Linked DNA regions of Homo sapiens: all the other regions are linked to region 2. The links come from fine-mapping of genetic effects on gene expression. A gene starts in region 2. Each other region holds a variant in brackets. All regions are shown on one strand. Distances are between the middles of the regions. Region 1 overlaps ZFP41 (ZFP41 zinc finger protein). Region 2 holds the start of ZNF696 (zinc finger protein 696). Region 3 overlaps TOP1MT (DNA topoisomerase I mitochondrial).

The links. PIP is the estimated chance that this variant, and not a neighbour inherited with it, causes the effect.
Region 1: its variant is fine-mapped to the expression of ZNF696 in whole blood (TOPMed, PIP above 0.99).
Region 3: its variant is fine-mapped to the expression of ZNF696 in hippocampus (GTEx, PIP above 0.99). The same link has a PIP of 0.9 or more in cerebral cortex.

Annotation. Positions count from the first base shown.
Region 1 is chr8:143,252,564-143,258,729 of GRCh38, forward strand. All of the region lies in intron 2 of ZFP41 (ZFP41 zinc finger protein), which reads left to right. Among named protein-coding and RNA genes, the nearest start is that of ZFP41, 8.7 kb to the left of the region's middle. The variant C/T (reference allele first, on the strand shown) is at 2,164.
Region 2 is chr8:143,288,208-143,294,447 of GRCh38, forward strand. ZNF696 (zinc finger protein 696) reads left to right here and starts at 3,210. Exons shown (of 3, transcript NM_030895.3): 1 at 3,210-3,560; 2 at 4,765-4,858. The coding sequence starts at 4,795. RefSeq lists an enhancer at 2,699-3,274 and a silencer at 2,745-3,464.
Region 3 is chr8:143,325,269-143,330,791 of GRCh38, forward strand. TOP1MT (DNA topoisomerase I mitochondrial) reads right to left here. Exons shown (of 14, transcript NM_052963.3): 3 at 4,082-4,203; 4 at 954-1,076; 5 at 78-265. Among named protein-coding and RNA genes, the nearest start is that of TOP1MT, 6.8 kb to the right of the region's middle. The variant A/G (reference allele first, on the strand shown) is at 3,580.

The sequences.
Region 1 (6,166 bases), 36 kb before region 2:
CTCCTGATGGTCCTGCCGCCTCAGTCGCTGCTGGAAGCACGGCCTTCGTGGCTTCTCAATGGCCCGTGGTCCCAATGGGGGTAGGTAGGTGGCAAGTCCCGTGGTGTCGTGTACCTGCCTCTGTGATGACTGTGTCTCACACTATTGGGCGTGTGCTGGGGAGGCCAGTCTTCCCGTGGGGCTCCCCGGGGCTGTGGTCAGCCCACTGCCGTCAGCATGGGGGTGAGGGGGTGAGGGAGCGAGGGGGCGGGCAGCCTCAGCCTCACCTAGATAGACTGTCCCTGGATGCCGCCGGCGGACCACGGCCAGTGTTGACCCCCACAGGGCAGGACATCCTGGTGGGCCCCCTGGCCCGGATCTCCTTATGCAGCCGTTCCCGGTATGTCCTGAGGCTGGACGGCCTCAGCCAGCTGTCACCAGGAGAGGAATACTCGCACTCCCAGAAATGGACATATCAGGAGGTGAATTGTTCAGAAGCAGGCATCAGAGCACGTGTGACGTGTGATCCTGGATCGGAAGAGTTGCTTTGAAGGACTTTGCTGGGACGTTTGGCCGACCTGGATTGTAGACTCCAGGCACAGTCAACTGCAGGCACAGTCAACTGCAGGCACAGTCAGCACCAGCGCAGCAGGGACGGGGCGGTCCTCACTGACGTCCTCCTACTGCAGATGCACACTGAGGCTCTTGGCCGCAGAGCGTGGCGTCTGCAGTTCATGCCAACGGTGTGTGCACGTCCCCGGAGAGTGACAGAGGAGAGTGGCTAAATGTCAGTCATGGGGAATCTAGAGCACAGGTGGGCACGCTTCTCCGATGAAGGGTCAGGCAGGAAATATTCTTGGCACTGCAGCCATACAGCCTGTGCCTCAGCACCCACGGGGGACCACAGAAGGTTGGGGACCACTGCTTTAAACAACTAGCTCTCCCGTGAAGAGCAGGTCCCCACCCTGCTGTGTAGGGCAACAGCAGATGTCAATGGCATATGAATGAACGAGCGTGGCTGTGCCAATAAAACTTTATTTACAAACGTAGGAGGTGGGCCGGATTTGCTTGCCGATCCTGTCCTAGGTGAAGGGTGCATTCGAGCTCCTGGTATAGTTTGGACGTCTGTCCCCTCCAGATCTTATGTGGAAATGTGATCCCCAGTGTGGGAAGGGGCCTGGCAGGAGGTATTCGGGTCACGGGGACAGATCCCTCGAGAATGGCTTGGTGCCCTCCTCACAGTAATGAGTGAGCTCTCACTCTTGAGGTTCACTGGAGAGCTTGTTGTTTAAAGCAGTGGTCCCCAACCTTCTTGGCACCTGGGACCAGTTTTTTCCGTGGACAGGGAGTGGTGTGGATGGTTTGAGTATGAAACTGTCCCACCTCAGATCATCAGGCATTTGATTCTCATAAGGAGCGTGCAACCTAGATCCCTCGCATGCAGTTCACGGTGGGGTTCGTGGTCCAGTGAGAATCTAATGCCACCGCTGATCTGACAGGAGGCGGAGCTTAGGCGGTAACGCTCACTCGCCTGCCACCCACCTCCTGCTGTGTGACCCACTTCTAACAGGCCATGGACCCGTCTTGAGGTCAGGGACTCCTGCATTAAAGAGCCTGGTGCCTCCTCCCGTCTCTTGCTCCCTCCCTGCAGCCTCACCAGAAGCCAAGCAGATACCTGTGCAGCCTGCAGAACCGCCAGCCACGTAAACCTCGTTACAAAAACTTACCCAGCCTCGGGTGTTCCTTTATAGTAACACACAATGAACTAACACAACTCCCAGTCCTTGCACACGCTCTCTGTGTCTTAGTGTCCTTCAGAATTAGCTGTTGGCAGGGAAGAGCCGGCGTCAGGAGTCAGGAACTCGGACACAAGAAAGAAACCAGGGGGCGGGACAGGGAGCTGCTCAGAGCAGGCATCCTCTGCTGTCTGTCGGGATGTGCCACAGAGGGTGGCAAGTGTGGACACGGCTGTCTAGGATGGCCCAGGAGACGGGCACGCATTCCCTGGTGGTGTCTGCATTTGGTTTGATTTTACTTATGATAGTATGATCGTTGCTTTTCCCCGTTACTGACAATAGGGAGCGTTACTTTTTTTTTTTTTTTTTTTTTGAGACAGAGTCTCATTCTGTTGCCAGGCTGGAGTGCAGTGGCACGATCTCAGCTCACCACAACCTCCACCTCCCG[C/T]GGTCAAGCGATTCCCCTGCTTCAGCATCCCGAGTAGCTGGGATTTCAGGCACGCACCACCACGCCCAGCTAATTTTTGTATTTTTAGTAGAGACGGGGTTTCACCATGTTGGCCAGGAAGGAAGCATTACTTTTAATGCCTGCACAATGACCAGTTGAATCGAAAAGGCACAGGTGACTTATCCACTTCCCAGCATGGGCATGTGGGCTGTTTCCAACCTAGGTTATTATAAATAATGCCACAATAAATATCTTTTCCATATTTAGGGCCAATAGGACGGATTCCCAGGTGTGGATTGACATCTCACCAAATGCCAGCCCCAGGTCATGCCCACAGAGACGCCTGCAGCAGCGCATGGCTGGCAGGACCACCTCAGCCTCTCTAGCAGCAGGCAGGTGGGTTCCTGATCCTAAACTCACACTTTAATCTGATGTCTTTGATTTCTAGGACGCACGTAGTGGGTCAAGAGCATAGCTCTCAAGTCAGGGGCTGTGGACTTGACCCTCACTCTGGAACTGTGGGGCCTTTGCCTCAGTTTTCCCAGGTGTGAAATGGCGATGCTGACAGTGCTTAACCCCACAGGGTTGCCAAGAACAAGAACCGTAATACGTGACGTCGTAAGCACACTGCTGGATCCTACGAACTGTGTGACCGTGTCAGCTCGCCCCGTGTCTGGTGTTAGTGAGATCAGAGCTCGCCCCGCGTGCTGGTGTTCTTGAGATCAGGGCTCACCCCGCGTCTAGTGTTAGTGAGATCAGAGCTCACCCCGCGTGCTGGTGTTAGTGAGATCAGGGCTCGCCCCACGTGCTGGAGTTAGTGAGATCAGGGCTCGCCCCGCGTGCTGGTGTTCTTGAGATCAGGGCTCGCCCCGCGTCTAGTGTTAGTGAGATCAGAGCTCACCCCGCGTGCTGGTGTTAGTGAGATCAGGGCTCGCCCCACGTGCTGGAGTTAGTGAGATCAGGGCTCGCCCCGCGTGCTGGTGTTAGTGAGATCACGGCTCACCCCGCGTGCTGGTGTTAGTGAGATCAGGGCTCTCCCCGCGTGCTAGAGTTAGTGAGATCAGGGCTCGCCCCGCGTGCTGGTGTTAGTGAGATCAGGGCTCGCCCCGCGTGCTGGTGTTCTTGAGATCAGGGCTCGCCCCGCGTGCTGGTGTTAGTGAGATCAGGGCTCGCCCCGCGTGCTGGTGTTAGTGAGATCACGGCTCGCCCCGCGTGCTGGTGTTAGTGAGATCAGGGCTCTCCCCGCGTGCTAGAGTTAGTGAGATCAGGGCTCGCCCCGCGTGCTGGTGTTAGTGAGATCAGGGCTCACCCCGCGTGCTGGTGTTCTTGAGATCAGGGCTCACCCCGCGTGCTGGTGTTAGTGAGATCAGGGCTCGCCCCGCGTGCTGGTGTTAGTGAGATCACGGCTCGCCCCGCGTGCTGGTGTTAGTGAGATCAGGGCTCGCCCCGCGTGCTGGTGTTAGTGAGATCAGGGCTCGCCCCGCGTGCTGGAGTTAGTGAGATCAGGGCTCGCCCCGCGTGCTGGTGTTAGTGAGATCACGGCTCGCCCCGCGTGCTGGTGTTAGTGAGATCAGGGCTCGCCCCGCGTGCTGGTGTTAGTGAGATCAGGGCTCACCCCGCGTGCTGGAGTTAGTGAGATCAGGGCTCGCCCCGCGTGCTGGAGTTAGTGAGATCAGGGCTCGCCCCGCGTGCTGGTGTTAGTGAGATCAGGGCTCGCCCCACATGCTGGTGTTAGTGAGATCAGATATTGGTTCACACACGAAATGGGGGCCATGCAAACTGACTGCCTTGGATACTTCTCCAAGGAAAAGATGAGAGAGCTGGCTTCAACAAAATCGGCATGGAAAACAACAAAAGATACATTTTTGGGGCCAGATGTGGTGACTCACATCTGTAATCCCAGTGCTTTGGAAGGCCGAGGCAGGAGGATCACTTGAGGCCAGGAGTTCAAGACCTGCTTGGATGACAGAGCAAGACCCTGTCTCAAAAATAAAAGATACATTTTTTTAAATCCACTTGGAAATTTTTTTTAACGTTTATGGTTATGAGAAAAATTGCATAACCAAAACAAAACCAGTCTGCCATCTTTTTTGTCCCTATCATTTGGCACAGACAGACGAACTCCTGACGTCACAGCAGGACCAAGAGCTGAAGCCGGAGGCACAGACAGATGAATTCCTGATGTCATAGCAAGACCAAGAGCTGAAGCCGGAGGCCGTCTAGGCTGACCTCTGCTTCGGTGTCTTGTTTAAAAGAAGCTCTTATTGCAGGAAGAGAAAACCTACATGACCCAGGTGAAAGATAAGACACTTAAAATTCAGTGATCATATGACTTAACAGAGCACCTGATGGCAGTGGGAGCCAAGGGCAGTATCCAACCCTGTGTGCTTCTGTTGCTGTTAGGAGAGGAGCTGGAAGTCAGGAGAGGAGCTGGAAGTCAGGAGGGAAGCACCCAGTGTAACAGTTAGAAGAAGAAAGGCCCAGGCCAGGCACGGTGGCTCACGCCTATAATCCCAGCACTTTGGGAGGCCAAGGCAGGCAGATCACCTGAGGACAGGAGTTCAAGACAAGTCATGGCTAACATGGTGAAACCCCATTTCTACTAAAAATACAGAAGAAAATTAGCTGGGTGTGGTGGCGCATGCCTGTATTCCTAGCTACTTGGGAGGCTGAGGCAGGAGAATTGCTTGAACCCAGGAGGCGGAGGTTGCAGTGAGCCAAGATCACGCCATTGCACTCCAGCTCAGGCAATAAAAGTGAAACTCTGTCTCAAAAAAATAAATACATAAATAAGTAAATAAAGCCACTTATTAATACAATTAATGGAAACAGACACCATTGAGAGGACAAAAGAGCTAAGAGTTGGTTCTTTGAAAGGACTATTAAAATTGACATCCTCTGGCAAAATGACTAAGAAAAAAGGAGCAAATCACCCATCAGGAATGAGAAAGGAAGACAGTTCAGCCACATCCGATGCTGAAAAGGTGAGAAAAGCCTGTGCTGACAAAGAGAACTCCACCAAAACGGTTCGACCATCAGGAGGAAAGTCACGTGGCAGCCCAGCTCGAGGAGACACGCACACAGAATCCATCGCCATGACAGAGATTGTGTGGATGATTCTCAGTCTTGCCAAAGAACACCAAGTCCAGGTGCTTTGCACGTGAGTTCAAGAAACAGCTCCAGTTTTACCCAGACTCGGAGACAGACAAGAAACACACCCTGTGTTATTTTCTGAAGTGAGTGTAATCTGGATATCAAAATTACAGTTCAGTGTCACTCATACACATATACATGAACAAAGGTACTAAGCACTTGCAGGCCAGGCACGGTGGCTCATTCCTGTCATCCCAGCACATTGGGAGACTGAGGTGGGAGGATCGATTGAGCTCAGGAGTTTGAGACCAGCCTGGGCAACAGAGTGAGATTTCATTTCTAATAAAAATTAAAAATTAGGTATGGTGGCGTGCGCCTGTGGTCCCATATACTCGGGAGGCTAAGGTAGGAGGATCAGTTGAGCCCAGGAGGTTGACACTTCAGTGAACTGGGATTGTATCACTGCATTCTGTTCTGCAGACGTGAGCAGGAGTGATGGACGCCTCTTCCAGGCCTGGCCTCCTGAAATCTTCCCTGTAATCATCTGCTGTCCTCCCTTCCTGTGACTGAGAGAGAAGGACTCAGAGATGGCAGAGCCACACACCAAGAGAAGGAGCCATGTCCTGGAGTCACCCTCGGGAGAGCCTCAAGACCCTGTCATGGTGTGAGCAAGAAGGGGAGGCCTCCTGAGCCAGACGCTGACATGCGGAGGTTCTTCGTTATCCCAGCCACCGTTACTTACCCTGACCACTGTAGCAACAAATGACAAATGTTCAGAATATGTGCAGCATTCATAGGAACCAGGATTTTTAAAGACAAATATCTAAATAGAAAAATGGCCAAAACAGGAGTTCAAGACCAGCCTGAACAACGCAGCGAGACCCCATCTCTAGAAAAAAGAAAAATGGGC
Region 2 (6,240 bases):
ACACAGACACAGTAACAATCTGATCTCTCTTGCTTTTCCCCACAGGTCTCACTCTGTCACCCAAGCTGGAGTGCAATGGCGTGATCTCAGCTCACTGCAATCTCCACCTCCCGGGCTCAAGTGATTCTCCTGCCTCAGCCTCCCGAGTACCTGGGATTACAGGCGAACACCACCACTCCCGGCTAATTTTTGTAGTTTTAGTAGAGATGGAATTTCACCGTGTTGGCCAGGCTGGTCTCAAACCCCTGACCTCAGGTGATCCACCCGCCTCGGCCTCCCAACGTGCTGGGATGACAGGAGTGAGCCACTGCGCCAGGCCCAGCTGTCTTTGTTTTTCAGGGGTGCCTTTGGTAATTTCTTCATCGTACTTTTTTTTTTCAGGGTAGCAGGTAAGAGACTCAGTGGATAGGCTCATGGAAACAGTCCTTGAAGGGGTGGTATTCTAAGACTCAGCTACTTTTTTTTTTTTTTTTTTTTTTTTTTTTTTTTTGAGACGGAGTCTCACTGTGGAGTGCAGTGGCGAAATCTTACTGCAACCTCCGCCTCCTGGATTCAAGCAATTCTCCTGCCCCAGCCTCCCGAGTAGCTGGGACTAAGGCAAGCACCAACATGCCTGGCTAATTTTTTGTAATTTTTTTTTTGGTGGAGATGGGGTTTCACTATGTTGGCCAGGCTGGTCTCGAACTCCTGACCTCGAGTGATCCTCCTGTCTTGGCCTCCCAGAGTGCTGGGATTACAGGCGTGAGCCACCTCTCCGGCCTGGACTCGGCTACTTTTGGATCAAGAAATCCAGAATTTTCTAGACTGTGAACTTGCCCTTTATCATGGACATTTACCACCTGCAACTGCCCAGAGGTTCTCTGTCTCACCCTACACCGTGAGGACCCCCTTAGCAAACAGAATTCCAGGGCGCGGGCTCTTCGCAGGATCTGAGCTATTCGCGGGCGTCCTGAGTTGCTTGGATTCACTCCCCCACCCCCATGTCCCTGGAGTCCTGCCTTGTGTTTTCGATTCTGTTTCTCAGGGGCCCCAGCGTGTGGCCTCCCATTGTGGGAGAGCAGGAGGGAAGCGGTGAGGGGTGATTTCGGAGGAGGCAGAGCCCCGGGTGTCCGTGGGAAGCTCCAAAGCCGGGCCGCGGGACGGCTACCCTGGGCTGTGACGCAGTCCAGGATCTTCGCCAAGGCACCTGCTGGAGGCCCCTCCTGGGTCCCACGACCCCGACTGCGCCTGCCGGCTGCCAGCGAGGAGGCGGGGCCAAGGCGAGGGCGGGGCCGAGGCAGGAGGGGCGGGGTCGGCCTGATGGGCGGGGCTTCCGTGTGGGCGGGGCTGCTGGCCCTGCGGTCTGAGCCAGCGGGGAGAGGCCCGGGCGGAGGAGGCTGCGGACTCCTAGAGGTTCAGTGCCGGAAGTTGGGCCTGGAAAGGGGGCACCGCCTTCCCGGTTCTGGTGGCGGGGAGTGAGGGGACGGGCGAAAGCGGCACAGGGAACAGCATGACACGGGCCTGAGGCAGGGCACATTTGGAAAGGGGCGAGGAGAGGGCAGTGGCTTCTGGCACGGCAGCAGTGGGCATACAGAGGCAGTCGGGACCCGTCTGGAAGAGCCTCCGCCCGGGGTAAGGAGCCGGGACTGTGTCTAGGAGGCAGTGGGGAGCTCCGGAGAGCGAAGCGCCTCCTGCGCAGACTCGCGTGCTTGGAGTACCGGAGCCTGCAGGGCAAGAGAGGGTCTTCAGAAGACCCACGACGTTCCACTGGGATGCAGAGGGAAACGGTTACTTGTACTTCTACATCATCTCTTTTAGATGTGTGTGTGTGTGGTGTGTGTTGTTGTTGTTGTTTTTGTTTTGCGACAGAATCTCTGTCACCCAGGCTGGAGTGCAGTGCCAATCTCGGCTCACTGCAGCCTCCGCCTCCCGAGCTCAAGTGGTCCCCCCGCCTCAGCCTCCCGAGTAGCTGGTACCACAGGCGCCGGCCACCACGCCCGGCTAATTTTTAAAAAAAATTTTTAGTCGACACGGTTCTAACTATGTTGCTCAGGCTGGTCTGAAACTCCTGGACTCAAACAATCCTCCTGCCTTGGCCTCCCAAAGTGCTGGGATTACATTCATGAGCCTCTCGCCCACCCAGTCTAAGTGTTTTAATTTTTATCTTTTACAACAGCTTCTAATTTGTTACAAATAAACGTGCAGCATGTGGTGGGAGTGTTCAGGTGTTTACTGGTGCAGTGCGCAATGAACGCGGTTCCAGGCACGAGATGTGGAGGCCCAGAGGCAGATGCCGGGTGGCGGCGGCGCGGGACTGTCGGAGGCGCGGGCAGGGACCTGGGCTCCCAAGGCTGTGGCCCTCCCGCCCCAGTCCAGGGTCCAGTTCCAGGGGCGCGTCTGGCCCTCTGTTGCTGTCTTCTTAGGGTTCTCTCATGGGAATCGGTTCTTCAGCCTTTCTTTTCTCCCCAGAGAGGGTCTGTCTACTCGTTGTAAGAGGGAACAAGTCCACATTGCAGCTGTACACTTTGCACCCATGATGAAAAGCGTCACTTTTGCAGCATTCCAGCTGGAGATGCGTGACCTTCGGTCTGCGGCAGGCGGAAGGGCGAGAGACTTGGACAGGAGGTGCATCTTGCCCGGGGAAGGCTGAACGAATGAGAGCTCGGTCCCTGGTGAGAAAGAGCCCAGAGCCCGCGAGAGGCGGGCAGCAAGGGCTTCTCTGCAGCGGAGACGCGAGGGCGGCGTCCTGCAGGGAGGCGGGGGGCAGCGCCTGGGGCGCTCCAAGCTCTCGGCCCCAAGGAAGCCCACGCTCGGGACCCGCGTGCTGCCACAGCCCCGGGGGCCTGGAGGGTCCCGTGAGCCGAGCGGGACCCGGGACAAGCGCGGGACGCCGCGGGGAACGGACGGGAACGCGCGTGGCCGCCCCACAGCGGGCCTTCGACACCTCCTGACACGTCCTGCGGGTGCCCGGTCCTCAGTTGGCTCGAGCCGGATCCCGGCGCGCCAACGGCTCGACCTTGCCCCCCACGAGGCAGGGCTTCCTGCCCGGCAGGAAGGACTCGGCCGGCGCCTGCGGGCAACCGATGAGCTGAAGGCGCCGCGGCTGGGCCGTCCCGCTCTCCCGCCGCCGAGCGCGCTGTCCTCCCGCTGCCCAGAGCGTCGCCGGAAGTGCCGAGGGGGCGGGCCAGGGGTGGAGACTGGCGTTTCCGGCGCGCGACGGGGCGGGGACCGTAGCGGGTGCAGTCCAGCTGCTCTGGACGCTGAGGCCCCGGCTTCTCTTGCTGGGGTGTCGATTCGGGAGGGCTGAGGGCGCGGCCGAGAGAACGGGGCGGTCACCGCCGCCGTGGCCCGCGCGTCCCGCGCTCTCCTTGCAGTGCAGGCCCCAGCCGCTCTCGGGCGCGGCGTGGGGGAGGCGGCCCTGCAGGTGCGTACCCGGGGTCCGACACGTGCGGGGCTTCCTGCGAGCTGAGTCCCCGCTGCGCGTCTTCAGGCCTTTGTAAGTTGTCAAATTTCCCACCGGCCCAGCTCATCGAGCTTCTTCCCAGCTGTGAACAGGAGGGCCTGTTCCCTAATTCTTGCCGGTAAGGTACTTGCAAAAATCTGCTTCCAGACTAAAAAATTGCACTTTAAATTACCTTTTTGTAAAAGCGGCGGGGTCTCGCTATGTTTCCCAGGCTGGCCTCCTACTCCTGGGCTCAAGCGATCCTCCCGCTCAGCCTCCCTGGCAGGCGGGATTACAGGCGGCTTAAATTAAATTTACTAATTAATCACTTTATTTACTTATTTTTTTAAGACAGGGTCTCACTCCAACGCCCAGCTGGAGTGCAGTGGCGAAATCTCGGTTCACCCCAGCCTAGACCTCCTGGGCTCAGGCAGTCCTCCCACCTCAGCCTCCCTAGTAGCTGGGACTACAGACGCCCACCATCACACCTGGCTAATTTTTTGATTTTTTGTAGAGACGGGGTCTCACTATGTTGCCCAGGCTGGTCAGGAACTCTTGTAATCAGTCAGTCCTCCATCCTGAGCCTTTTGAAGTGCTAGGATTACAACTGTGAGCCACAGCACCCAGCCAAATTACATTTCTTAATTGCACTTGAGGTGAGACCTAAAAAAATGTATTGCCTACTGGTTTTTCTTCTTTGTGAGTTACCTATTCATGATCTTTGCCAATTTTCCTTCCTTTCTCATTAATATATAGAGGTCTTTATCAGATAGGGATGAATCTTTGCATTGCACGTATTCCTCCCTTTTTGGTTTTTTTTTTTTACATTAAATTTTTTTATGTAGTTGAATTTGTCAGACATCTGATGTCAGGCTTAGAAAAATCATTCCTCATTCCAAAACTTTACCATTCAAATAAGTTGTTCTTTTCTTCTGGTTTAACATTTTTATATTCAAATCCTTATAACTACCAAGAAAATTTTAAAACCCATGGGAATTTCTCTAGACATTTGAAGACTGCTGGAGGGCGCGGGCTTCCTCAGCATGGAGCTAGGAAGCTGTGGCCACGCCCACCTGTGCTCTGCGTCAGCCCTGGGTGGAGGGGGACCCGCAGAGCCTGGACCAGAGTTCCTGGGCATCCCACAGAACAGAACACCCGCTTCTGGGAGTGTCTGTTGAGCCAGGACCTTGATTGCTAGTGACAGGAGTGGGCCCAGCTGGGTGATGCAGCTCCCACAGGGCCTGTTCTGACAGTTTCCTCTGAAGGCATTCTGACCTCACTGCCCCTGGCCCCTGTACCTAGCCCTGGCTGTGATTTATTTTCCTTTTCTTTTACCTAAGCAGAAATTGTTCCAACTGCTGGTGTTCTGCAAGATGGAGCCAGGAGGAGAGCCCACAGGTGCTAAAGAGAGCAGTACCCTGATGGAGTCCCTTGCAGGTGAGGGGACATGTCCACAGTCGGGCCCAGAGTTCCAGGGCAGGAATTGAACAGGAATACAGGAAAAACACCATGTCTCAGTCACTGACGCAGAGCATATACTGTGTCCTTGGGCGCAGGGTGAGGGAGGGAGGTAAACGCAGGCCCATCAGATCTCCTGGGCATCTGTTTGGTGACTGTCTTTGCCAGTGAACTGAGAGCTTTTGGTTAGAAAGTCTGGCAGCCCCAGGCTCTGCCTCTGGGAAGGTCTCTCTCTCAGTGCTTCTCCACCTTGGCACCGTGGCTGTTTTGGAATGGACGAGTCTTTGTTGAGGGGCCATCCTGTGTGTTGTAGGACGTTCGGCAGCACCCTCGCCTCTGCCCACTTGGTGTCAGTAGGGCCCCCTCCCAGTTGTGACAATCCAAAACATCTCCACACATTGTCAAATGTGCCCTCAGGACAAAATCGCCCCCATGAGAACACTGCTTTATGTTTTGGGGCCACCCTGAGAGTGTGTCACAGCAACAGCCCGGGAGATGGCGTGGGCAGTGCAGGCCCTGCTGTGAGGTCTGGGATTGCCTCCATCGGAAAGGCGTCCTTGGGGCCTGCAGGCTGGATCCAGTAGAGCTCCACCACGTATGTGTCCCCTTCTCACCATAGTCTTGGTTCTTTTTCCTCATAAGCAATACCTTTGAGTCAGTTCTTGAACTTCCAAGTCTGCAAACCACAAGACCAGGGCTGGGCCTCTGCCAAGGGGCTTCTGTTCTGCAGGCCGCCCTGAGCGCCTCCCGCCCCCTGGCTGCTCAGTGTCAGGGGTCTGCAAGGGCAGAGAGAGGTGGGGACTGTCGATAGCAGCCTGCTCTCATCTGCCCTGGAACATCCCTGCCCCACCCCCACCTCCACAGGAGCTTCCGTCTTATCTGCGCCCTCCACATTCTTGAGAGGTGCAGCTGGGACTCAGCCGCTTCTCCTCTGCTGCCACAGCGGACTGCCTGCAGACTGAGAAGTCCTCCTCAGTTGCTGTGCTGGCCTCGTTGGCCCCCCTCCTCCTGCTGCCCCTCCTGGCTGAGTCCTCCTGCCTCCTATGCAGGCCAAGCTCAGTTGCCAGCTTTCTCATGTCCCAGGGTTTCACCCCTACCCCTTAAGCCTTTTTTCTAAATGGCCACATGGTCTGTCCCTGTGAGCCAGTGGAACCAAATCTAACCAGTGGCTTGACTGCCAGACAAGGGCCATTGATAACGCAGCCTGGATGGGGTTGCTCAGCCTGACCAGCGCCGCCGCCGCCCAGCCCACATGGGACGTGGGTTGCTGCTTCCAGCTCTTGTTCCGGATTTCTTTTCTTTTCTTTTTTTTTTTTTTAAGACAAAGTCTTGCTCTGTCGCCAGGCTGGAGTGCAGTGGCG
Region 3 (5,523 bases), 37 kb after region 2:
CCAGGAGGTGAAGAAAAGCCAGCCTCACCCGGGTGGCGGGGGTCCAGTGCCCGCCTGCTGCCCGCCCGGCCACGCACCTGCTGCAGTTGATAACCACATCCTCTGGCGTGATCCTTCTCTTCAGCATCCCCATCTTGGGATGGTCGCCACGGCCACGGAACAAGCCAGGCGGCTCAATCTTGAAGTTGCCTATTTTTTCTTGGTGACCATCTAAAATACAGTAGCCGAACTCTTGCTGAAGTTTTTCTGCCTCTTCTTTTAGCTTCTGAGTTAATAAAACAGTCAGTGGACATTAGCAGTGAAGAGAAGAGAACAGGCCTCAGTCCGTTGTTGCTAACCCGGGACCACCCTGCTCTGTCTGGCTAACTCAGCTGGACCCTCAAAGCCCTTCACAATCCATGGAGGTTGCAGGGGCAGGGGACAGTGCAGGTGGGCTTGCAGGGGGCACCGAGAGCCATGGCCTAACCACCCCATGGCCTGGACTCCCCGGCCCCTGCACAGACTTCGGCTGTTTTAGGCCTAAGCAGTAAAGCCAGGTGGAGGGAGCGTGGCTGCCCGCCATGGAGGAGGAGGGCTAAGGGAATCCCTGAGAAGGCCACATGGAGATCACAGCACGGCAGGTTCCTGTTAGATGTAGGGAGACGCATGGCACAGAACAGCAAGAAGCCGACTGGCCTGCACAAGCCCCGCCCTCAGCCCACGGCCCGTCTGGGAACCCACCCTTGATCAATGATGGTAAATTATCCATTTCAAACCGGGTTTACTCTCAAATGTGCTCTGGGGAAGCGGAACGACACTTAAGCACATGCAGGGGCGCTAAGGCTGACGAGAAAAGAGCAGCTTTGTGAGAAGGGGCTTCTCTAAGGCCACAGGCCTTTCTCAGTCTTTGGGCCAGGCCGGCCTCTCGTTCCCAGGGGCCACTTCAGGTCACACAACGCTCGAGGCAGCCCAACCTGCTTCTCCTCCCTGCTCAGGACTTTCCGGGCTGCGGCCTTGTCCACAAAGTATCTGTGGATCTCCGTGAAGTCACACTTGTCCAGGCTCTTGATGACTTCCCTCTCTTCCACCGCCATTTCCTGCAAAAACCACAGACACGCGCTCTCACCATGTCTGAAGGACAGACATGCAGAGCGCTCTCGCCATGTCTGACGGACAGAAACGCGCTCTCGCCATGTCCGACGGAGGCGTGTGTGCAATAGGCAGAACCTGCGCACGGTCCTGCGGCCCCGTAAATAGAGCCTCTCCCCGCAGACCCCACAGATAGAGCTGGTTCTGTTATTGCAGGCATGGAGTTGGGTGGGGCAGCGGAGGGCACAGTTCTCCAAAAGCAACTTCACAACAAGTCAGTAGTAAAACTGGCTAAAACCTTTGCACCCAATAATTCCACTTTGAGATCCATCCTAAATAAACTCTCCAGTATGAAAACCCGGATGACGACCGCACTAAGGGCAACTGCAGAAACGTCATGACCGGACAGAGCAGGATACATGGTCGGGAGCTCATCTGGTGAACGTGACGGGATTCGCGAGGGCAAAGTCTCAGTCCATACGTGCTGCTGCCACAAAATACCGGGGACTGGTCAGTTGTAAATCATAGTCACAGCTCTGGGGGCTGGAAGGCTGGGATCAGGGTCCCAGCATTTGACGTCTATGGAGGGCCCAGTCCCTGCTTCTGAGAGGATGCCCTGAAGGCTGTCCTCACACAGTGGAGGGGACAGAAGGACAGAAGGGGCCCAGCTAATTCCACCCAGCCCTGCCCTAAGGCCCTAAATTAATCCTAAGGGCTGCAGCAAGGTGGAGTCCTCACAGCCCAATCAGCTCCTAAAGGCCCTCCCTCTGTCCTGTGGTGCTGGGGATTCAGTTTCAAGGTGAATTTTGGAAAGCACAGCAGAAAACAGTTTGACGATGATCTACCCGTGTGGAGACTAAGCGGGATAAAATGCTAAGTGGGGAAAACATTACAGGCACACTGATCACACTCACACGAAAACTAGTGCCCAGGAAAAGCCAGGACGCGGGAACAGGAGACACTGACCTGAGGGAGAGCCGCAGATCACAGGCAACTGTTTCTCCTTTCGTTTCCTACACAACAAAAACTCTGCACAGCCCATGGACAAAAGCCCAGGCTTGCGGGCACCAGCTCACGGTCCCAGTCCAGGCTCGGCCACTTAGGCCTGTGAGACCTCAGGAGCTGCTGTCAAACGTGTCTCGCTGTGGGATGGGGATGATCCGCCTCTTCCGAGGAGCTCAGGTACGACACCATCTGTGCCAGGATGGAGCCCTGCTCGGCCACAACCACGGGCTCAGGGTCCGTCCCTGTGTCTCCCGGGGCCGCCGGATGTGCCACCCACTCCTGTTCTGCTGCTTTGTGACACTGCCTCCCTTCCTAGCTCTGCTAGTGACTGGAAGAAGTGCTGACCAGAGGGAGAATGAGGATGCCGGGCAGCTGGTGCCACCTCACAAAGCTGTCGTGAAAGGCAGAGGGGTGGCATCAGGCCAAAGAAGAGGGTCCAGAAGCGGAGCCTGCACAGGGGACAAGGAAGCACAGGCTCCAGCAGCTGGCTCGGGGCAGTCAGACACCCACATGCAACACACGAGCCTCGGCCTCTACCCCACACTATAACCAAAATTAACTCAGAGTTCCACCTAAACCAAGCTGACCTCAATGGAAACCTAAAACCAAAACTTCTAGGAAAAACATAGGAGGAAATCTCTGTGCTGCCGAATTCAGCAGATTTCTTAGACAAAACAACAAAAGCAAACCTGTGACAAAACATGAAACGTGGGACCTCATCAGTATTCCAAACTCCTGACCTTCCAAAGACATTGTTAAGAGAACGCAAATAGAAACTACAAACACCATGAAAGATTTTTGCAAATCATATTTCTGATAATGGACTTAAAACAGGACACAAAAGTACTCACCATAAAAGACAGATTGATAAACGGCATAACTAAGTTACAGTTTTCTGTTTGGAGACCTCACTGAGAAGTGAAAAGGCAAAGTCTGGGAGATGACATTCACAGCATGTGCGTCTGGCAAAGAACCTGCACCCAGGATGCGTTTTTAAAACTCCGATAAATGAGCGAGGAATACGCAAGCAACTCAGTTTTTTAAATAGACAAAAGTTCACGAAAGAAAATACTGAAATGACACGTCAGTACACCAAAAGATGCTTAATATCACTTGTCATTAGGGAAACGCAAACCACACCCACGGCGAGGTGTCATTTTGTGCCCACTAGAAAGGTGCCTCGCACCCGCGGCAGGCGTGTGGACAGTTCAGCCTGGTGTTGCTAGTAAGCTGGACACACGTGACCCAGCAATTTCACCCCAAGTCCTGTCAGAGGCAACTCACACATATGTGCCCTCACCCACGTGGGAATGTTCATGGCAGCTTTACACATGCAAAGGCCTAAAACAGGAATTAATCAAACACCCACGAATAGGGAAATGGACTAGCATGAGTCACGGAACAGAGGAAACGCGACCCGGCCAGAGCCAGGAAGATGCTGCGGGACAAGCAGTCAGGGGCGAGCCTCGCAGGTGTGGGGCAGACAGAAACCCCGGAGGGCACAGA[A/G]TCCGCGGCACACACATAAAATCAGTCAGGCCATGGGCGAAGGGCAGTCACCTTGAAAATGAGCAAGGAAAAAGCCTTGAGGCAGCACCCTCCCCTCCAAAGAGCTTCTCGCCAAGCATGTCTTCCTGGGGGCTGGGAAATGGCATGCGGCCTCCTCTACTCTCCTTCTTATATGCCAGACCCCTGTCCTTTCAGCGGTCCATGGAGTAAGGACCACAAATCGGCCTCCACATCCACAGCCTGCCTGGGAAGGGAAAGGTCTGAGGTGCACTAGGCTGGACACACTGGCACCGCCTATGGTCCCAGCTACTCAGGAGGCCGAGACAGGAGGATGGCTTGAGCCCAGGAGCTCGAAGCTGCAAAGAGCCATGACGGCACCTGTGAGTGGTCACACAGGGGCCACCGAGAACTTGCGAGGGGCGTTCAGAGGCAGCACTGCAGAACCGCAGACGCCTAGCCAGCCAGGTCCAGGACAGCTGTGGCGGCCGCCCAGGGTACCTACCTTTCGCCAGTCATTGAAGAAGTTCTTCCGGAAAACCTCCTTTGTTGTGTATTCATGATCTAACATCCTCCCATAAAAAGTGGCGACCTCCTCCGCTGCCACGCTCAATCTCACAGGCCTTCCTGCAGGCATCGGAAGACACATCGTATGAGAGAGCGGCCAGAGGCTCGGCCTCCAGCTGACATGACCTCATTGCTTTAAACTACGCTTTCGTGCGTACTATGCCAAGAGCAAGAAGCTAGGCCTTCTTCTGTAAGTTCAGAAGCATGTTCTGCATGACACACGACAATCAACCTGCGTGGAGGTGGCGACCACAGTGATCTGGGAGCGGGTCGTGAGAAAGCTGCAGAAGATTTCAGGCGCTACTGCTTTCTCCTCCTTTACCACTTAACGTTGCTACTACATTTATATTACATGAAAATGGAACATGTACAATTTTAAAACACACCAATTTCCACAAAATTTCACAAGTAAAATAAAAGTTAAGGCTTCAAAGCAGAAAACTGAATAACTAGGTGTACCCTTTTACAACTCTGCGGCCTCTGTCCCACCATTCCCTGCATTTTATTCTAAGATCAGTGTGGTTTAGAGATGGGGGGTGAGCTGGGAGCAGGCGAGCAGAGTGAGAGGCTCGTGGTGGGAACGAGGGTGTTCACCAGGAATTCTTTCAACTGCACGTCTGAAAAGCTTTCATAAGAAAATTTTAGAGAAATAAATGCATAATCATTTGGTAAGAAGGAGGAAGGCATTTCTGATAAACAGCAGCAATCCTTCCCCAAACTAGCTTCTCAGGACAGAGGACGAGAGGCCCAGAGACCAGCAGCACAGGCCCGAGGGGCTCAGCTCCCACTGCCCCTCTGTGGAGGCTCGGCCCCACTGGGCCCCACGCGACACCACCACTCCCCGGACTGTCCACCATGGCCCTGCATAAGCAGTCCTCGCCTGCCATGTCCCTCCTGGCCAGGGAGGTCCTGCAGGGCTGCTGTGGGGCAGGCGAGGCAGCCGCTACACCAGGCCAGGGGCACAGCGCGAGACGCTCAGTAAGGTCCCATGGCCTCCCGTGGGCAGCCCCCACAGACACAGCTAGAACCTCTGTCCCTGTGGAAGCTCCAGTACCGCTTTGGAGAAACAGGCTTTGAACAAAACATTGCATCAAAGGAGCTCAGCAAACTCAGGTGTGCATGTGACTCGGCAGGGGGCCCACGGGAGGGCTGGTGGGAGGGGCACAGCATGGCGTGGGGGCCTGCCCTGGGGGAGAAGAGGTTTGCTTTTCTTAGAAGGATGCCTTCTAGCAGAGATGAAGAAAATAGGCTGAAGCAGCTAAAATCAGCAGCACAAGAGCCAAGCCAAAGCTCCTGGGCCCTGGGGTAGAGAGGAGGGCTCAAGGGCAGGAGGGGTGTGTGGGCCCTGCTGCCCCAGAGCCCCCGGGTCCTGCCTCTGAG